2 separate regions of the Homo sapiens genome follow, and region 1 is linked to region 2. A link means that fine-mapping ties the variant in region 2 to the expression of a gene that starts in the linked region. Tissue or cell type: whole blood. Region 2 holds a variant in brackets; the other region holds the start of a gene. All regions are shown on one strand. Distances are from middle to middle.

Region 1 (8,092 bases), 42 kb after region 2:
GTTCAGCTACTCAGGAGGCTGAGGTGGGAGGATCGCTTGAGCCCAGGAGTTCGAGACCATGATCACACCACTGACTGCACTCTTCCCTCCTGGATGGCAGGGTGAAACAGTCTCAAAAAAAAAAAAAAAAAAGAAAGAAAGAAAGAAAGGGTTTGAACACGAAAAACTGAGGTCAACTGTAAACCAGTTGGTTGTCAGTACAGCACAATCCCAAGTACAGTGTAGCTATAGCCTAATAGGGCCTCACAGTGTCTATGCGAGCTTCACCATTAACAATCACTTCCCCTGGCCATTCTTCACCGTCTTATAGTTTGAGAAGAGCTGCTTACTGCCCTGACTTTGTTTATTTACCCAAGAGGCAAAATGTTTACATATTTCTGTTAACACAGGGACTTTCTTTGATGCCGCCTTGATCTTCTGGTATGGCTTTTTCCTTTTTTTTTTTTTGAGATGGAGTCTCGTTCTATCTCCCAGGCTGGAGTGCAGTGGTGCGATCTCTGCTCACTGGAACCTCCGCCTCCCAGGCTCAAGTGATTCTCCTGCCTCAGCCTCCTGAGTAGCTGGGACTACAGGCATGGTAGGGCTTTTTCCAGTTTACCATACCCTGCCCCACTCCACACTATGAAGTGTGTCTGCCTTTGTTCCATGTTCCCTCTGATGGACAGTATTTTGCTATAAGTATCCTCAGTTCAGTCAGAACTTAATGTTACTTAATTTTACGCAGTGCTCAAAATTGGGAACACACCTGTAAAGGGTTTGCCATCACCAGGATTTTAAACCACCGACATAGACTGAAAGCAAGAAGAGTGCTGTGTTTGTTGCTATATCCCCTCCAGCACCTAAGGCAATGCATTTCACATCTTGCTGAGAGCAGCTAACTCAATACCTGGAACTAGAAAATTAGAATCTAAAAGACGGAAGGCATCTAAAGACCAGTTCCCATCATGCCACAGCTGAGAAATTGGAGACCCAGGTGGTTAAATCAGATATTGAGTTAATGTCAGCTGGAATGCAGATGTTCCTACTCTGAGTTGAGTGCCCTTTCCTCTGTCAGGTTGCTTGTTAGCTAAATGAATGAATGACTTTACCACTCGATTTGTATGAAAAAAGGAGGCCAGAAAAGAGACTAAAGTTAAATGTGTAATTGTTTGTATAGACTATATTTGCCAACTTAACTGAAGTTTTCCACTTTCAATTGATTGTTTGCATTCATTGACTTAGATATATTTTTCATCATTTAAAATGTTTCATCAATGCATACAAACTCCAGACAAATAACAAGTCAGATTTCAATATAGTATTAACTCCAATTCCTCTATAATCTATAATACTTAAATAATTACATGATCGGACTGATCCAAATATATTTTAATGTCTTTATATGTCAATGATGAAGGATGTAAAATCTTCATATTATGTCTCTATTATGTAACTGCTTCAAGAAAACAAAAAATTAATAAAACCTAACACATGTAAATAAACTCTGACATAACGTGAGTCCATGATATTCACTAGCCAGATTTTCAAACCTCATTGTCCTTTAAGAGCCCAATTTTAAGCTGGGCGTGGTAGTTTACGCCTGTAATCCCAACACTTTGGGAAGCTGAGATGGGAAGAAAGTTTGAGCAAGGGAATTATAACCAGCCTGGGCAACATAGCAAGACCCAGTCTTATTCAAAAAAATTTTTTTAAATTTTTTTTAAATCCAATTTTTGCCCTTTAGATTTTTTTTTTAACCAACCAACAATTTGCCAGCTTTTTTTTTTTTTTTTTTTTTTTTTTGAGACGGAGTCTCACTCTGTTGCCCAGGTTGGAGTGCAGTAGCATGATCTCGGCTCACTGCAACCTCCTCCTCCTGGGTTGAAGCAATCCTCCTGCCTCAGCCTCCCGAGTAGCTGGGATTATAGGCATGTGCCACCATGCCCGGCTAATTTTTGTATTTTTAGTAGAGATGGGGTTTTGCCATGTTGGCCTGGCTGGTCTCGAACTCCTGCCCTCATGTGATCCACCCACCTCAGCCTCCCAAAGTTCTGGGATTACAGGCAGAAGTCACCACACCCAGCCAGCCAGCTTTGAGTTTCATTTCTTTCATTTTCTTGCTCATCCTCAGAGAGAGAGGTTTAAGAAGAGAAATAAAGGGGAAAAACGGGAAACAGAAAGGCGAAAGGTATAGATGCCTCAGGAACTGACAGGGAGTAGCAGTCAGGCTCCTGGAAGAAACGAGAAATGTAGCAAGGCATGGTCAGGAAACACATGTCTATCCATGCTCCCACTCTCTCTGCCTTTCCCTCTCTTTCCCATCCCTCTTGCCAAGAAGTGAGTTGGCAGTCTTACCAATGACAAACAAAATAGATAAAGCCTCCACACTGAGATTTAGAAACCCCACTTTAGCCAAAACTAAGTCACTTACATCAAATTGTACCATGACACCAAGCATTCCTGTCCCCTCCCCTGCAATGGCAATCAAGTGTCATAGAAAAATAGCCTTTTAAAATTACCATGAGCCTTTTATTTTTATTTATTTTTACACCCAGGCTGGAGTGCAGTGGCGTGATCACGGCTCACTGTAGCCTCAAACTCCTGGGCTCAAGCAATCCTCCTGCCTTGGCCTCCCAAAGTTGGCTCAGGGTTGAGGAGCCACTGTGCTCAGCCAACCATGAGGTTTTTAGAGATGATCTTGTCTAAACCCTTCTCGCCTGTTTTGCAGAAAAGAAAATTGAGATCCCAGAGAAATGAAGTAACTTGCCCAAGGTCATTCAGCAGGCAAGATAGAACTAGATCCCCAAATTGCAAACTAGCTGTCCAGAGTTCTTTCCTCAATGAGCAATTTAAAAGCTACAGAATGTACAAAAAAAGCTCCCCAACAGTTTAGATATAAAAACAATTACAAAGGCACAAAAGGGCAGGAAAACTCAATAAAACTATGAACTTCACCCATCCCACCTCCCAGAAACCCAGTGACAATCAAAGCAGCGTCAGGCTGGTTCAAGGAGTAATGGTGTCTCCAACAATTTAATTGCTCTTCTTCCTCCTTTACCCATTTCTCACAGGCAGAGAAAAAATGCATCTAAGACTACTGAAACTTACTTTGAACCAATACAGATGTTTGTTGATACCTGAAATTTAGTGATTCGCAAATACGTTTTCTGCCAAGAGCTTACAGAAATCACACTCTTAGAGCTAAAACATCAGGTCATTCCATGAGTCTCAAGCCCTGGAGAAAATTAAATGCCTTCCCCAGAAACGGGTCCTCTCCCCTGTCCTGCGCAGGTAACAAACGCTGCTGGAGAGACTTGGCTTCATCAGCTGTCTAAATGCAGACTTTTCAAGAAGGTGACTCAAGAAACTAACATTCCAAAACAGGACTTCAGAAAAAGAAGAAAACTTTTTCTTACCCTTAAAAATGACAGAAACAATAGGATCCGGCTTGCCAAATTTCGTTTTAGGGATATTGCTGGCAGATTCCACAATCACTCGCAGCATGGTTCTTAGCTGGTAGAAAGCAAGTTTCAGCAAACGAAGTGGAGACTAGGGCGCTGGAGCTCCGGGTCGCACCGCCCTGGGAGAGAAGTTCTCTCCCAGTGAAGGGAGGATTTCTCCCAGGGCAAGGAAGGGGAAAAGGCAAAATGGGTGGACCTCTGGCGGATTTTACTGAAGGCAACGTGTAAACTGATACCGAACTCCCCGCGTCTACGCAGTGCCGCAGGCACAGACTTATGAATTCGGGAAATGTGGAAGTGAAAAGGACAAACCCTAAACTAAAAATAATTCCGTGCGACAAATGAAACCAACATGAATTTGGAGCTAAGAAATACGGGTAGGTCAGGAAACCACTAAAATGTTGCTGCCTTTTAGCAATGGTTCGTGAAACTGAATTAATTGATTTTTCCGTCACTGCTTTCATTCTTTTCTGAGTTTCAAGGAGTTTTAAAACTTTAGTCATTATTTGCTTTTGACTTTTCGCTGTTACTTCTCACGCCATTGAACACACCCACTCAGTAACCCTATGTTCAGCTTTTTTAAAGCAGCTAAAGGGTGCCTCTTACTGGACGGCAAACGAATGACAGCGTTTATTTCAAGTAAACGCGATCCAGGCATGGGATATATAAATAATTACATATATGTATAAATAATTATATATATATATATATATATATATATATATATATATATATATATATATATATATATATAAAGGACTGAACATAGAATTTCTTCAAAACCCCTTCAGAGGTGAGAGCTGGGCGCCTAAGTTTTCCCGGCTCTTCAAATGCTGCCAATTGCCTTCAGTGAAAATGGAGAAGTGACTCCCCACTGTTTCTGGACCTACAGCTGCCCATGGTGTCTTTCTGTCCCAGAGGGTGCATGAAGACAGTGCAGCTTGGCTGAGATCACAAGAGGCGGCCTGGGGTTAGTCAGCCAGATCTGAGTGTGAGACTCTGCCTCACCACCCTGAGCTACGTCATCTTAGCAAGTTTCTTTTCTTTTCTTTTCTTTTCTTTTTTTTTTTTGACGGAGTCTCGCTCTGTCACCAGGCTGGAGTGCAGTGTAGCGATCTTGGCTCACTGCAACCTCTGCCTCCCGGGTTCAAGCGATTCTCCTGCCTCAGTCTCCCGAGTAGCTGGGACTACAGGCGTGCGCCACCACACGCAGCTAATTTTTTTTTTTTTTGTATTTTTAGTAGAGACGGGGTTTCACCATGCTGGCAAGGATGGTCTCGATCTCTTGACCTTGTGATCCGCCCGCCTCGGCCTCCGTGGCTTGAGCTTTACTGGCTTGAGCTTTACTGGCTTGAGCCACCGTGCTGGCGAGCAAGTTTCTTAACCCCTCTCTTCCTCAGTTTCCTCATCTATGAACTGGGGATAAAGGCTGTTATAAGATAAAGGTCATAGCATAGGAGCTGGCACAAAGCACACAGTAATTTGCACATGTAAGAAGTTCATGCTTATTTGTGGTCTCACAGCGTTTCTGTTAGTGCAGGCTGACTTTAAATCAGGATCTCGTTATATTTCAGAAGAAAAGGCTAAAACTTGGGATGAAGAAACATTGGGCTTCTTTTTGCTTTAGAACACACATCAAGCAGACCCACCTGTAAATAAACATTTCAAGTACATTGAATAAGCATGACTTAACCTACAAGAATTCTTCTGTCTCCACGAGTTTCTCCAAGGCTTAAAGCAAAGAACCAATTACCCAGTGCTGTGTTCATTATTGTATTTAGTGGACATGTTGGCAGTTTTAGTGGAATATAGAGATTATTACTTTTATTTTATCTGGCTGCTTTCTATTTGCCATTTTTACTGTGAAATATATTTACAGAAAAATGCATACTACATAAACGTGACAGTTTAACAAGCATCCAGGTCAAGACAGAACATTGCCAGTCCTCCAGAAGCCCCTGGAATACCCCATATATCATATCCACCTCCTTCTCCCAGAGGTAACCACTCTCCTGATTTTTTTTTCTTTTTTTAGATGGAGTTTCACTCTTGTTGCCCAGGCTGGATTGAAGTGGGGTGATCGGCTCACTGCCACCTCCACCTCCCGGGTTCAAGCAATTCTCCTGCCTCAGCCTCCCAGGTAGCTGGGATTACAGGCGTGCACTACCACACCCGGCTAATTTTGTATTTTTAGTAGAGACAGGGTTTCACCGTGTTGGCCAGGCTGGTCTCAAACTCCTGACCTCAGGTGATCCATCCACCTCGGCCTCCCAAAGTGCTGGGATTACAGGCATGAGCCACCATGCCTGGCCCACTCTCCTGATTTTTATGGTAATGATTTCCTTGCTTTTCTTTGTAGTTTTTACCGAAAACAACAACAACAAAACAGTTTAGGTTTGCTTGCTCATGACCTTTGTTTGGTGATATAAATTCTTTTGTATGTTATGAACTTTACATACAACACATATATTCATATATATAGGTACACACATACATGTGTTCATACTTTGTGAATTCTTTGCTGTATTATGACTTTATAGAAATGGACTCATACAGAATGGATTCTTTCGTGTTTGACTTCTTTTTTCTCAGTATTATATTGTGAAATTCATTCATGTAGCTCTACTTCCTTCACTCTTGTTGCTATATGGCATTTCATTGTATGAGTTTCTGACATTTTATTTATTTATTTATTTTGAGACAGAGTCTTGCTCTGTAGCCCAGGCTGGAGTGCAGTGGTGCGATCTCGTTTCACTGCAACCTCTGCCTCCCGGGTTCAAGCAATTCTCCTGCCTCAGCCTCCTGAGTAGCTGGGATTACAGGTGCACACCACCACGCCCGGCTAATTTTTGTATCTTTAGTAGAGATGGGGTGTCACCATGTTGGCCAGGATGTTCTCGAACTCTTTACCTCGTGATCCGCCTGCCTCAGCCTCCCAAAGTGCTGGGATTACAGGCATGAGCCACTGCGCCTGGCCTCCAGATTTGATTAATTCATTCTACTACTGCCAGACATTTGGACAGTTCAGGGAATGGGGCTATTACAAACAGTGCTGTTCTGAACAGTCCAAGACTGTTCTGGCACAAATGTGCATGAGTCTATTTAGAGTCTAATCTATGGGTGGAATTGCTTGCTGGGCCAGAGAATGTATGCATTTCTTCACCTTTACAAGGTAATTCCAAATTATATTCCACAATGGTACTCTTGCCAGCAGTGTATGAGACTTCCTGTTGTTCTAAATTTTTGTCATACTTAACCAATGTTAGATTTTTTACATTTGCCCTTCTGGTGAGCATATAATAGCATCTCACTGGAGTTTTAATTTGCCTTTTACCTATTCATGTGGGAGAAAAAGACAAATGACTTCCAACCTTACATAATACATAATCAATTACAGGTGGAGTATAAATCTAAATAAGCAAGATAAAACATGTTTCAGCCCAGACACAGTGGTTCATACCTGTAATCTCAACACTTTGGGGAGGCTGAGGTGAGTCTGAGACCAGCCTGGGCAACATAGTGAGACCCTGCCTCTAAAAAAAATTTTTTAAATTAATCGAGTGTGGTGGCATGCACCTGTGGTCCCAGCTACTTGAAAGGCTGAGGTGGGACAACCACTTGAGCCTGGGAAGTCCTGGTGGCAGTGAGCCATGATTGTGCCACTATACTCCAACCTGGGTAACAGAGTGAGACCCTGTCTCTAAAAAAAAAAAAAAAAAAATCTAACCAGGTGGTGGCAGCAGCTCACACCTGTAGTCCCAGCTACTTGGGAAGCTGAGGCAAGAGGATCACTTGAGGCCAGAAATAGAAATCCAGCCTAGACAACATGGCAAGACCTCCTCTCTAAAACAAATAAGTAAAGAAAAAAATCAAACAACAAAAAAAGCCATAGAAGAATATCTATATGACCCCAGGATAGGAAAGGATTTCTTAATATGAAAAAATGTACAAATCATAAAGGAAATATTGATAAATTCAATTATATTAAAATCACAACCTACAAAGGACTAGTATTCAGAGTACATAAACAGCTCCAGCAAATTAGTAAGACAAACACATAGAACTCAATGGAAAAATAGGTAAAAGATTTGAATAGGCACTTCATAAATTAGGAAATGTAAATATGAAAAGGTACTCAACCTCATTGGTAATTAGAAAAGTGCAAATTAAAACTCCAATGAGTTATTATTATATACTCACCAGATGGGAAAATATGTAAAAATCTAACATTGCCAAGCTTGACAAGAATGTGGAACAACGGGAAGTCTCATACACCGCTGGTGAGAGTGTAATCAGCAGTAAATTCTCATGGATTTTCTACCATTACAATTATAGAATCTGCAAATAACGCCTGGGGTGTTTCTTCCTTTTCAATCTTTGTGCTTACTTTATTTTCCCATTTATTTCTATGTTGATTAGACCTTTCATTATAATATTGACTAGGGGTGGTAATAACAGACATCCTTATCTTTTTCTGTATTTCAAAGGGAAAGATTTCCATACTTCACCATAAAGTATGATGTTTGCTGTAGGTTTCTCATAATTAGCCCTTTTAAGATTAAAGGAGTTCTCTTTATTCCTAGGTTGCTAAAACTTTGAGGTTTTTTTTTTTGGTTTTTTTTTTTTTTTTTTTGAGATGGAGTCTTGTTATG
Region 2 (8,106 bases):
TCTTTCAGCCCACGAATGTCATAGAGTTTGGAGTCGAGTCTCTATGTGACATCAAATATTACACAATGGGAGCAACTACTTGAAAATGAGATGTTATGATTGGGGGAATGAAAGAGTTTAATTGTAAACCAGTCAACTTAGTCTTGCAAGTATTGGTTAAGAGCCGCTTAAACTGTTTTTTTTTTCTTCTTTCTTCTTCTTCTTAAAATAGACAGAGTATAGTTTGTTTACAAAAGAGAAATGGAAAATGTTCTCCCCTTTAGCACGGCGCAAATGTGAAGGGCCGCATGCCTCTGGAGTGAGTAAGGGCTTTGCCGGCTGACTCTTACTCAGGGGAGCTCACGTATACGAAGTTGTTCCTCTATGCAGCAGAGACACAGCCCACATGATTTCTGGAGGAGGAGTAACTTGGAAATTCCTTCATGAAGGAAGGAAAAAATGTGTTGGAGGCTGAGAAATAAATCACATGTTGCACTGTTTCTGCCTCTAGAGATCGCAGCACGGTCTCAACTTCCCGACCTCTAAGCAGGAACAGCAATCCCAACCTGACTGGGGACAAACACGATTCCAGGCTGCTCCTAGGTCCCCTGTAGGAAACCTAAAAAGATGGTGAGCTTCCCACCCTCGAAGCAGGGGCTCTCAGTTGGCCGTGCCTTGTCATTTTGGCAGGCCTATGGCCCTGGGGTTCCAAGGCTGGACCCCATCTCCCTCCCCAGCACTTCTCCCTCTCCTGGGCCAGTATCTGTCAAGCTCCTGCCCTGATCCCCCGCCAAAAGGCAGGAGAGCCAAGGATGCTCCCTGTGAACTAGACTGGTAGGAGACGCCGTGTCAGCTGACAAAGAGTCTTTGCTTGGCCAAACTTGAGTGGAGCTCCTGAGCCTCCTCCTAAGCCTGTGCTTCCTTATGAAATCCAGTGTTAGCAGAGAATCCTACTCGGTCAGTTTAGCAAACAACCCCCATCCGTGAGATCTGATCACCCTCCATATCTGATCGGGTTTCTCATTCTCTGCCATCCCCCACGTGATGTCCTCAGCAAGAATCCTGTTAGGTTGGGTTAGCCAGAATCCCCCTGACTGTGACATTTCCTCTTAGGAATTTTCCATCCACTGACCCCCCACACTCCTCCTTGGCTATCAATTCCTACTTGCCCATGCTGTATCTGAGTGGCACCCCATCTCTCTTCCTTCCCACGAGTCTCCGTTGCAGGGGTCACTTGAGCTAACTCAGTCCTGAATGAAGCCTTCCTGCCCATACTGTACCAGGTGTCACTGAATAATTCTTTCTCAACACGCCCATGGCAGCAGCTCGTATCACAGGAAACTATTGCTAAGGTAAAATCCCCGCAAAGGGCTGCGCCTCGGTTCACCCCTCCACTTGCACTTGCCCGCCCACCCTCACTCGGCCTCCGCATCGTCTCCCAAAACATTTCTCAGAATGTGCTTCCCCAGACGTCCCTCACCAGGGCGTCTGCAGATTCCCAGATCCCTGAGTCCGACTTTTTCCTTTCGGTAATTCTTAATACCCAGGAAGTCCGAGAAACAATGGTCTAGACAGTGACTCCCAATGGCTGTGGGAGTAAAGTGGAGGAGGTAGAGGGCTAGGGATAGGGAAGGCAGAAGGCAACGCGGGATCTGGGGAGAGGGGGGCTTGAGTGGTTTTGAAAACATTCAGCATGGGAATCCAGGCTCACGTTTGAGAACCACGCATCGAAGTCCAATTATTTAATAGAACAAACTGTAGCAGGCAAACTCCATGAAAACCTCCTAGGAAGGCCTAGTGACCTGCGCTCCCCCCAGGAACTTCCGCTCCTGACTCCAGGCCAGGACTGCCAGAGAACCTTGCGGCTCTTTTCCTGCTCATCGAAAGGGGGTGTGGCTTTTTAAAAGGTAGAAACACTGATCCTCAACCGTGATTCCCAAACCTGGCTGGCACAAGTCTCGCCTCTACTTTTAGCTCACTCCACGCCCTGGTTTTGGAATCACTGACATAGCCTGAAGGCTGTGGCAGGATTTGCACGATTTTCGTGGCCAGCATCTACTGTGCTCTTTTTCCCAGCCCCTCCCACCTCTGCAACTCTGGCCACTATGGTATCACTGTTACCTTTGCAGGTAACACCTGCAAAGGGCTGAGTGGAAGCCCAGGTCTCCTCACCAAAGCCCTCCGGGTCAGTGAGGCATTGAGGCCAGAGTCTGTGGCTGCGAGGAGCAGGCTAACTCCTCTGGCATGGAGGAGATGCTGAATATTATTTCTTGAAGAAATGGTCACCTGCTATTTTGTTATTTTCACCTGACCAATTCTGTGCCTGCCTGCCTGCCTGCCTGCTCTGATGGTTCAGTGGAGTTCCGATGCTCTGTCTCCAGTTAATTCCCTCAACCGTTAGAATCAAAGTAGTAGTTTTTTCATCCATCCATTTATTCACTCTTTCATGAACTTGAACCTTGTAAGATAAGGAGGGACAGCTTTGCCTGATGACTAGGAACGTGGAGGCAGGCAGGCCTGACTAATTCAGACTCAGGCTGCGTACAGGTTAACTTCTCCGAGCTTCAGTTTCCTCATCTATAAAATGGGGATAATGACAGCTCCTACTTAATGGTATTGTTGCAGGGATTAAAAGGATGATATGGCAAGTGCTTAACAGTCACCTTGTATTATTATTTCAGACACTATGCTAGAAAAAGAGATGTATAAAAAGCATATGAAGACAGGGCTCCTGGCTAGTACTTGGCAGTGAAAGCTGGTCTGAATCAGCAGGGGGCTGGGCAGGTGGGCATGAATGAATAGATAAGAACCCTTTGTAACTACCCACATCCATTTCTATGTAATCACTATGTAAAGTTCTTAAAACCAGTTCTTTATCTTACCTACATTAAATAGCCCTTCCCCACCCTTAATACTACATATACCACAAATCCTTTTGGGAAACAATTTTTCTTTTCAGAGTTAGACCAGAGGTAAATGTCAGCTGCAGCTGAATTCTCATAAAATCCAATTTAGTGGAATCTGAATGAAGTCTGTAAACTTCATAACCCATTATAAAAGATTCCCCAGGCTGGGTGCAGTGGCTCATGCCTGTAATCCCAGCACTTTGTGAGGCCGAGGCAGGTGGATCACGAGGTCAAGAGATCAAGACCATCCTGGCCAATATGGTGAAACCCCATTTCTACTAAAAATAAAAAAATTAGTCGGGCGTGGTGGCGGGCGCCTGTAGTCCTAGCTACTCGGGAGGCTGGGGCAGAAGAATCACTTGAACCCGGGAGGCAGAGGTTGCAGTGAGCCGGGATTGTGCCACTGCACTCCAGCCTGTCGACAGAGCAAGACTCCGTCTCGAAAAAAAAAACCCCCAAAACAAACCCTTATACAACAACCCTATCTAAACCAGCACCCACTCAGACCTCACCCTGCTGTTTTCTCTCCTTTACCTTCCTTTATTTTCTTCGTATCACTTATCACCATCTGTTATGTCATATGTGTATTTATCTGTTCCCTCTACTCAGATGTTAGCTCCATAAAAGGTATGGAGTACCCCCAGTGTCTAGAGCTGTGTCTGACACATAGTAGGCATTAGTAAATATTTGTGGCATGAATAAATTAGCTGATACATCATTGAAGATAGTCCAATGACCTTGCAAATTATTTACAGGTTGTAAATCTTCCTGTCCTAAGAGATCACCCGCCAAAGAGCCATCAGAAGATAATTACAGCTCTTGCCTTTATGAGATGCCTTTCTCTTTCAGCCTCTCTGGGTATCTTTCTCCAGGGCTGTGGCCCAATCTTATTTAATCACAAGATCTTAACAGATACCAACAGGATTGCAGCAGCTACTTAATCTGCCTTCCAAAAAGTGCAGTTCAGCCTCTCCCCGTATAGAGACAGCCAGCCCAAACCAGCTCAGATCATTTCAGTGTCATTGCTCTAATACAGAACTAAAAAGAAATCAGAACTGAGAGTTCTGCCCCACAGTAACATCTGCTTCTAGTTTAGATTTTTGTACAGCCTGAGAAGCTACTCCAGTGAGAAGAACCTGTTTCAATCCATGGGCTATCCTATCCTTCCTCACCAACCAACCCCAGGAGAAGAAAGACCACCTTCTCCCACTGTCACATTTACATGGGGCAAGGTCAGAAATGAGCTTTATAACTAGGAGAAATAAAAGTAATAAAAGCTTAAAGACAAGGTATTTCATATACTAGGGAATGAAAAACGTCTTATAAGCAATACCACACTTTGCCCTACCAAATTAATTTTATTCCAAACGCAGTCTTTTGTTTTTTCTAATTTAAAACAAGCTAGGGAGTTAGTACATTTCTTTTTTTTTTTGGAGACGGAGTCTCACGCCGTTGCCCAGGCTGGAGTGCAGTGGTGCAATCTCAGCTCATTGCAAGCTCCACCTCTTGAATTCAAGCGATTCTCCTGCCTCAGTCTCTGGAGTAGCTGGGATTACAGGTGCCCGCCACCATGCCTGGCTAATTTTTGTATCTTTTTTTTTTTTTTTTTTTTGAGACAGAGTCTCACTCTGTCACCCAGGCCGGAGTGCAATGGCACGGTCTCGGCTCACTGCAACCTCTGCCTTCTGCATTCAAGCGATTCTCCTACCTCAGCCTCCCGAGTAGCTGGGATTACAGGCGCTTGCCACCACACGCAGCTAATATTTGTATTTTTAGTAGAGACGGGGGTTTGCCCATGTTGGCCAGGCTGGTCTCGAACTCCTGACCTCGTGATCCACCTGCCTC[G/A]GCCTCCCAAAGTGCTAGAATTACAGGCGTGAGTCACCGTGCCCGGCCGAGAGTTAGTACATTTCACAACGTAAGCTAGGTCTTTTCCTTTTTTTATTTAATTCTATATCCTTTTCCTTTAATTCTATATTCCCCCGAACAACCTCTCACTTTCAAGTTTTAGCACCCTGGCCCTCAACCTGAACACACACACACACACACACACACACACACACACACACACACACAGAATAAACCTTGGAAAGTCTGGGCTCTGTGTAAGAGGATTTTAACATACCTATGTAAAATCCACATGCTTCCACTTAAAGAGCTGAGTGACCTTTTACAATTTAATGAACCTCTTTCAGCCACATTTTTCTCATCTGTGAGTTGAAGATCAGACTGTCTGACGGACTCATAGTTGATATAAGGATTAAATGCGATTGTAACTGAAACAGTTTTAACATCGTCCCTGACACACAGTAAACCTAGAAGAAAAGAATTAGCTATTTTGTTGTTCATCAGGAAATTGAAGTAATTTTTTCTTAATTATATCAAATTTGCCCTATATCTACTATTTATTGAGGAAGTATCACAGTCCCCATTATAAAGATTAAGAAATTTGCCAAGAGTCACCCAACCAACAAGAAGCAAAACCAAAGTTCTGTCTAATCTCATGATTGTACAGCTGGCCACATGCCCACACCTCTTACACAAGAACTGGAATACATTTCCTTCTAGGTATATTGTCAGGCCTTTTTGTTATCTCCTTCCTACAATACGGCAAAACAGATGCCTTGCTTGAGATTTATATTCAGAAACTGTTTCTAACTTTGTTCTGCATTGGTGTGGAAGTATATATAATGGTGGTTTTGCATGCACAAGTACATGTATTTGGAGGGCAGAAAGAATACTAGACATGCAAATTCTGAGACAGATAATTATGGTCACTTTATTTCAGACATTGTAATTGTCATCTCTAGCAGTCCAAGTTAATTTTTTTAAATTATCTTCCATGTCCCTACTAGCATGCTCAAGCAATTCTCCACCTTCTTGAATCTATAGAATAGAATTCCAACACTCAGCGGGGCACGGTGGCTTATGCCTGTAATCCCAGTACTTTGGGAGGCCGAGGGGGGCGGGTCACATGAGGCCAGGAGTTCGAGACCAGCCTGGCCAAAATGGTGAAACCCCGTCTCTGGTAAAAAAAATACATAAATTAGCTGGGCATGGTGGCGTGTGCCTGTAATTCCAGCTACTCCAGAGGCTGAGGTAGGAGAATCACTTGAACCCGGAGGCGGAGGTTGCAGTAAGCTGAGATCGTGCCACTGCACTCCAGCATGGGCAACAGAGTGAGACTCTGTCTCACAAAAAATTTTTTTTAAAGAATTATAATACTTGTTTTACTGTCCATGTCTACTGATTGTGTGCCATTTCTGGGTCAGTTTCTATTGATTGTTTTCTACCTACATTAGGGAGGCAAAATCCTTCCCTATGAATTACAAGGTGTTTCCCCCGGTTGGCGGGAACATAAACTCTTTCTAGTCCTGCCTCAAGCAGTTTCCTCACTCAGTTCTCAGCTGAAGATTCAAGGGGAATTCTCTGCAAGTCTCTGAAGTGCTCTCTCTGTCTCTCCTCTCTCTTCTCTCCTCTTTCTTCTCTCTCTCTCTCTCTCTCTCTGTGTGTGTGTGTGTGTGTGTGTGTGTGTCTGTGTTTCTCTCCTCTTGGTCCACTAGTAACCTTGGCATCTTTAGACTAACCTTGGCATCTCTAGACTCCCACCTGCACCTCTCCAACTCTGGGAGACAACAAGGATCCCTTTTCTTGCATTGCAGCATGGAAATGAGTCTCTCTAGGCATTAAGCTGGGAACTCTCAGGGCTCACCTCATTTATCTCCCATCTCTTAGAGATCACTGTTCTGTGCCAGCAAAGTCCAACATCTGAAAACTACTGTTGCATGTATTTTGTTTTAGTTGTGTCAGGTGGGAGGGTAAATCTAATCCCTTAGCATAACGGAACTACAGTCAATTCCAAACTACAGTCAATTTAAGGATGAGAATTCTGAGGCCTGGAGAGGGTAAGTAACTTGCCCAGGTCACCCACTAGTAATCAGTAGAGCTGGGTCTCTAATCGGCTTCTGCCTGGCTCCAGAATCCCAACTTTCAAATACCATGCTCTCCTGCCTTCCTGTGAGCTCAGCCTTGAGTTCCACATCTCTCTACAAAATGGCATGAGCTTTGTGAGAGAGGTTTGTTTCTCTTGTGTTCTGACCTTTGTATCCTGACCCCTTTGCAGCTTAAACCCAAGTTGGAACTAGGGTGCTGTTTCAGAGAGCCGAGGTGGACAGATTCCACACTGGTGGCCCATTACCAGTGAGCTGACAGGACAGCTGCAAGGTGCTTCTTAAATGGTAAATGTCATCCACGTAGGAGCATCATAAACTCACTTGTTCACTCATTCATCCAACAAACGTTTATTTAGAGCCTACTATATGCCAGGCACTGTGCTAAGTGCTGGTCTTACGGCATTGAACAAGAGTGACATGGAGTTTACTATCCAGTAGAGAGAGAACAAATGAATAAGTAAATAGAAAAGAACATTTCAGATGGTGGTGAATGCTGAGCTACATATAGCAGGTGTGTGGACCAGCACATACCCTGAGTACTTGTCTAAAACACAATTCTAGCATGTATTTGCTCACACAGACTCCTTTTCCCATTCTTACACTCACATGAGCTCCCTAATAAGAAGGGCTTTGGAAGAATAAAACAGAGTAATAAGATAAAGAGTGACAGGGAGGGGCTGCTCTAGGCTGGATGATCAGACATGGTGAGGCCCAATGACAAGATTTTACATCTATTGCAGTTTGAGGGAAGGAGCATTCCACGCAAAGGGAACAGCAAATGCAAAAACTCTACGCAGTACCTCTTTTTTCTCCTGGGCATGTGTGTCCACGTGTGCATACACACAGACACACAAATCTGAAAACTTGTCAATATCTTTTATTTCTACATGTACAGGTTCTTGAAGATGGCACTTTTAGGAACTCAAGGGTAGGGCCAGGATGCCAACAGATCAGGGTCCCAGCCTCCACCCCTCTGAGGCTCAAGTCTACTCTCTACTTCTCAAGGTCACTGTGAAGAGCAAATGAGATGAGATATAGTCTCTTCATATATCTGGTCCATTGCAGAATATAGGCATAAGTGACTTCCTACTCAACAGTATAAAAATGCTTAAAATTTTTACCTAGGGTGGAGCTTATAAAAGGTAGCAATACACTGATATTGAGAATTAAATTTTTTTTTGTCAAAATTAGGAAGAAAAATCACTTCTATTTCAGCAGAGATAATTGATCATTCTACCTACATTTTGTTTACTATAGGTAGTCAGAGGCTT

Evidence for each region. PIP is the estimated chance that this variant, and not a neighbour inherited with it, causes the effect.
Region 1: it holds the start of MYOF, and the variant in region 2 is fine-mapped to the expression of MYOF in whole blood (TOPMed, PIP above 0.99).

Annotation. Positions count from the first base shown.
Region 1 is chr10:93,478,712-93,486,803 of GRCh38, forward strand. It overlaps MYOF (myoferlin), which reads right to left and starts at 3,623. Exons shown (of 54, transcript NM_013451.4): 1 at 3,396-3,623. The coding sequence starts at 3,483.
Region 2 is chr10:93,437,085-93,445,190 of GRCh38, forward strand. All of the region lies in intron 3 of MYOF (myoferlin), which reads right to left. Among named protein-coding and RNA genes, the nearest start is that of MYOF, 41 kb to the right of the region's middle. RefSeq lists enhancers at 1-1,019, 168-462. The variant G/A (reference allele first, on the strand shown) is at 4,731.